Linked DNA regions of Homo sapiens: region 1 is linked to region 2. Evidence: fine-mapped expression QTL. A gene starts in region 2. The other region holds a variant in brackets. All regions are shown on one strand. Distances are between the middles of the regions.

Region 1 (2,963 bases), 74 kb after region 2:
CACATAATCTAGCTGGCCTGGAAGATTCCTGGAGTCTATGTCTAAAAGGTGACATTTGAGTGGGGATCTGAAGGATGATGTATGTCCCCAAATTCATGTGTTAGGAACTCAATTCCCAGTGTAACAGTATGGGGAGCTGTGACCTTTGGGAGATGATTGAGTCATGAGGCTCCAGCCTCATAAATGTGATTAGGTGCCCTTATAAAAGGGCTTGACAGAGGGAGTTTGCCCCCCTTTCACTCCTTCCATTCCCTCCACCATGTGAGAACACAGTGTCCCTCCCTTCCAGAGGATGCAGACACAAGGCACCATCTGGAAGCGCAGAGCAGCCCTCGCCAGACACCAAACCTGCTGGCGCCTTGATCTTGGACTTTCCAGCCTCCAGAACTGGAAGAAAATGAACTTCTGTTCTTTATAAAGGACCCAGTCTCAGGGGTCTTGTTATAGCAGAACTGATGGATGAGACAGATGAGTAGCAGCCTGACTTGGAGATGGGGAACACGTCCTGGCAGATGGAGCAGCAAGAGTTGCTATTGCCTGGCAGCAAGTCCAGAGCTGCCTCCAGTGGGCATGGCCAGGCCTCCCATCCAGCTCTCCTTCCTCCTGGAGCTGACATCTGGGTGACAACGTCCACCTTGAGATCCGTGAAGACACTCAGATTCTAGTCTGACTCTGTTCCCTCCGCCACGTAATCTCTCTGATCCTGTTTCCCATCTGGAAGAGTCAGGAGGGGGTTAATTCCTGCCCTGCCAAGTTTCTAGGATTATCATGAAGATCAAGTGGGATAATGCCTAGAAAAGAGTTTCATAAACCAAGAAGCACCAAACAAATATTATTTAGATTGCAGTCTTGCTTCTAGAAGCCGAGCCAGTTGCCTAAACAGAAAAATTAAATTTACGAAGAGGATCTGAACTTTCCCTCTCATATCCCCAGGCCTCCATTAACCATGGAGAGGCAAAACCTTCTTGGTCTATCTCCTTCTAGAGAGGTGATGGGTGCAGGAGAGAAAGAGGGGAGGGTGTGAAATAAGGAGGAGATGGCTTCATCACAGCCATGGATCGTGAGGAC[A/T]GTTGTTCTTTCCAGCTAGTCTGTGTGTGGGGTCAGGCCAGGCTCAGACCCAGCTATGAAGTCACCAAATAGGATTTTCTTTGCTCTCAGATTTGGCTGTTTTCCTTTTTTTTAACATCTTGCCAAGGAAACCAGCTCTTGGAAGATTCTGCACTACTTCCACCCTGCAGAGAAGGGTCTGGGTCTTTTTCTCAGGTGCCCCCAGTGCTTACGTGGCTGTCATCCCCTCTGGTCCTCCGTACCCTGGGATGCAAGCAGGAATGCCACTCAGAGCTCCAGGGGCCTTTACCAAGGATCAGACTATCAGGTGAAGGGAGGAGAGTTGACCAGCATGGAGCAGATAGGGGTGGTATTTAGTAGGAATGGTGGTATGGCATTCTAAGACTGCTGAGCTTGTCCAACTTAGCTCATTATGGATTTCCATTCACAGAGTCTAAGGAGTGGTCCCTAAAACCTATAAACAATGCTATCATCCTAGAGAGCAACCGACAGTGGTCTGAGTGGGACTGTCAAGCTTGAGTGTGCCTGCCCTTCGTGTACAATGTTAGCCTAAGAAACTCAGGTTTGTAATTTGTCAAGAAAAAATTGGAAGGCAGTTGAGGAAAAATCTATCATAAGCTAAAGCCTTGGCAGTTGTATCCAGCTGAAGGTACCAGGGAGCAGGTGTGGATGGTAGGAAACTGAGACAAAGATCCAAATACCTGGGGCCCTAGCTCATGGTCTGAGGGTGTGGGGCAGGGATACAGACCTGTAACAAAACAGGATGGATGTTGTAATAGCAGATGTGTTCAAGGGTCTCCAAGACAACCCTCAGGTTTGATGATTTGCTAGAGGGACTCACACAACTGAGAAAAGTTGCTGTATTCATGGTTATGCTTTATAACAGTGGAACGACATAGATTAAAACCAGAAAAGGGAGAGGGTGCATAGGGTGGAGGCCAGGAGAGAGCAGGGACAAGCTTCCAGTTGCTGTCCTCCAGGGGAGTTTTACAGACAATGCTTAATTCATCTAGGAGCAATGTGACACCACACATGGAGAGCTACCAACAACGGAAGCTCCTGAGCCTCTGTGTCCTGAGCTTTTACTGAGGGTTGGTCGTGTAGGCATGGCTGACCACCTGCATGGCTGACATTACTTAGTCCCCAGCCCCTTCAGAGGTCAAACAGACACGTGTGGCTAGAGGCCTGCACCAGCAATCTCATTGTTAGCATGGACTATCTGGCATAGGCCCTGTATTAGTAAGGGTTCTCTAGAGGGACAGAACTAATGGAATATATATATATATACTCCCATATATATATGGGAGTTTATTAAGCATTAACTCACATGATTACAAGGTCCACAATAGGCCATCTACAGGCTGAGGAGGAAGAAGAGCCAGTCTGAGTCCCAAAACTGGAGGACTTGGAGTCTGATGTTCAAGGGCAGGAAGCATCAAGCACAGGAGAAAGATGTAGGCTGGGAGGCTAGGCTGGTCTAGTCTTTTCACGTTTTTCTGCCCGCTTTATATTCTAGCCAAGCTGGCAGCTGATTAGATTGTGCCCACTCAGATTAAGTGTGGCTCTGCCTTTCCCAGCCCACCAACTCAAATATTAATCTCCTTTGGCAACACCCTCACAGACACACCCAGGATCAATACTTTGCATCCTTCGATCCAATCAAATTGACACTCAGTATTAACCATCACAGGCCCAAAGACACTATTATCAGGCAAGATATTCTAAAGGCTTAGAGGTTATCTCCTAGGAGCTGGCCCGGGGACAGATATCTCTTTGGAATGCATAGGGTGTGGATAATCCAGGTCTGCTGAGCCAACACTTTACTGCACAGCAAAACTCCAGAGAACTCATGAGGAGCCTGATTTATTTGTGATTGTGGGTAAAACTAGGTGGGA
Region 2 (2,500 bases):
CTTCCGAGAACCAATCAGTGGGGTGGCTGCAAGAGGCCAGGGTCTCAGGAGGGAAGGGACAGCTCGCCCCTTACCCAGGAGGCCCTCCCAGCCAGTGCGCAGCCGGCGCGTCTCACCTGCACGAAGCCCCAGAGCGGGTGGAGCGCGCAGTGCAGCAGCAGCGAGGACCAGCAGCAGCCACGGCGCAGCACCAAGTCCCGGAGGAGCATCTCGGCCAGCGGCGCCCGCTCCTGGGGCGAACTGTCAGGAGAGCAAGGCTAGGGTCAGGCGGACACCGCGCAGGCACTTCCGCCGCCGCGCACCAATATACCTCCCAGCCCGGGTCGGACGGGCACGCCCCGCACCCAGGGGCACCCTAGTAAACCAAGCCTGCACTTACACTCCAGCTTACACCTTCACTGACTCTTCGTCAGTCCCAGAATTCACACTCTTCTTACGCACATCCCCAGAGCCCCGCGTGTACACTTTAGCTCCGCGCACAGCTCCAGAATACTGCGTGCATACCTTGGCCCCATGGACACCTCCAGAAACAGCCAAGCACACTTACTGCGCCCCATTAACCCCCATACAACTCACTCTCACTGTGAGCACACTTCAAACCCGGCGGGCACTACTCACCTGCGCGCACAACCACAGAAACAGCCGTGCACACACACTGATCCCCGTGCACACCCACCGACTCCTGCCTGCACCCTCGCTGACCCTGCATGCACGGCCCCAAGAAATCTCACGCTGCCTGCACCCACACTGCCCAGCCGGCCTCATTGCGCACACTGCAACATAGGCACCTCCGTGCGCTGCCCCTTTGCACGCCTCCGCCCAGCCCCGATCTCCCGCTCCCGGGCGTGGGTTCCCCCACGCCTCCATCTCCGCCCGCACCCTTCCAACGCCTCACGCTACCTTGCCTGGCGGCGGCCCCAGCCGACCCTGGGCTCGGGGAAAAGAGGTCCGCGTTCCCCCCGCGGCAGCTCTGTTTCCCAGCAGCCGGACAGCCCCCATTTAAAGCCAGCCGCCTCCCCAGTCCCCCGCCCTCTAGGCGGGGCCTCCGTCCTCACCTTGGCGGCTGCGCGGGCGCCCGGGGGCTTCACATGCCGGGGAGGAGCGCCCGGCGCTGGAGCAAAAGTTTGCGCGCCGGTTGGGCCTCCCGGGCCGCTGAGCAGAGGACCAGGAGCGGCGTCCTCGCACGGGGCGCAGGGCGCGGTGGCTCCGGACTGCGCCTAGCCGCGCGCGGGGCGGGAGGGGCGGCACCCCGCTCCCAGGGCCAGGGCTGGCCGCCGAGGCGGAGGCAGAGGGCGGGGAAAGTCTCCTCCACGCCGCCTGGAGCCGGCCGCGCGAGCCCTCCCCGGGCCCGCGTTGGCTCCCCGCCTTTCCTGGTGGCGCCGCGCGGCTGCCCGGGGCACTGGGGTGCCCGAGCTCTCTACTACCCTCACGCTGGCCCGCGAGAGGCAGCGGCGGGAGGCGCCGGCAGGGAGCTCCCGCTGGGGCAGCAAAGCCGTGGGTGGAGGCGAAATAAATAATCCACGAAAAAGGAAAACAGACGTGAGCCGAGCCAGAGCCTCTCCCGCCTCCCGCCCGGGGTTGCGCTCCCCCCGCCGCCGCCGCCAGCGCCGCTGCAGTGATTCCTCGTCTCCATCTAGCGAGGCTATTGTGTATTGGGCGCTTAATTATTTATTCACCCTGGAGGCCGAGGATTCCCACTTCCATGGGGTTTTGGCCCTTGCCTGCGCTTCCCCCAAGCCTCTCCCGAGGCTGCGGAAAGGTGGCGAGGACTGACTTGAGACCCTTTTTTGCGCTCCATCCTTGAGGACTCTCCCCGCCGCACTCCCCGCAGGCTCTCCCGGGCGCCGGGGCTGAAAGGTGCAGGCCGCCCCTCTCCCGGCCATGGGCCTTGTCCTCTCCTTTGTAGTCCCAGCAGCAGAAACTCTCTTGCAACACTAGGCTGCGGCTGGGAAGGAGTTGTGACGGCCCTGGGGAGAACATTTCTACCACTGCTCTTCCTCAACCATCTGCAAACTCCTCTGTTTGAGGCAAGATTATCAACAAGTCGGTTCTTCGGGAGGTAGCCTGGTTGCATCTCTTTCAGACAAGCTGTGCCTAGCAGCATCACAGGCATGGCGCGGCCTCTCTGCTCTTGTGGTGGAAGCACTTTGCAAGCGCTTTGACTGATGGGGGCGCCTTCCAGAAGGCCCTCAAGGCCTGGACAATCCTATTTTTAGGTTGGATGAGAGAACCAGGGGCTTAAGACACAGAGCTGAGGGTCAGATACTACAGTGCATGCATGGAAGAAACATTTACTGAGCACCTTTTCCCGGTATTTGGACACCCTTAAGCCACTCATGTAAACACACACTATAAACGCTGGTTTGCAGAGTATAAACTACCTTGCAAGCCAGCTTTCAGAACAACGTCTTAGCGGCCTCCTTCATGCCAGAGCGCCGCCCCGAGGCTGCAGATTGCACCTCAACCAGCAAGATGCAGGGACAAATGTGAATGAGACCTT

Which allele goes with the higher level. Positions count from the first base shown, and alleles are read on the strand shown. Sizes are in standard deviations (SD) of each study's normalised expression.
In carriers of allele A in region 1, the expression in aorta of the gene that starts at base 976 in region 2 tends to be lower than with T alone (small effect, 0.22 SD a copy in GTEx).

What was found. PIP is the estimated chance that this variant, and not a neighbour inherited with it, causes the effect.
Region 1: its variant is fine-mapped to the expression of PRIMA1 in aorta (GTEx, PIP above 0.99).

What each region holds. Positions count from the first base shown.
Region 1 is chr14:93,861,375-93,864,337 of GRCh38, forward strand. No RefSeq gene overlaps it. Among named protein-coding and RNA genes, the nearest start is that of FAM181A-AS1, 64 kb to the right of the region's middle. The variant A/T (reference allele first, on the strand shown) is at 1,069.
Region 2 is chr14:93,787,510-93,790,009 of GRCh38, forward strand. It overlaps PRIMA1 (proline rich membrane anchor 1), which reads right to left and starts at 976. Exons shown (of 5, transcript NM_178013.4): 1 at 901-976; 2 at 117-240. The coding sequence starts at 209. RefSeq lists enhancers at 342-1,053, 1,054-1,767, 1,768-2,479.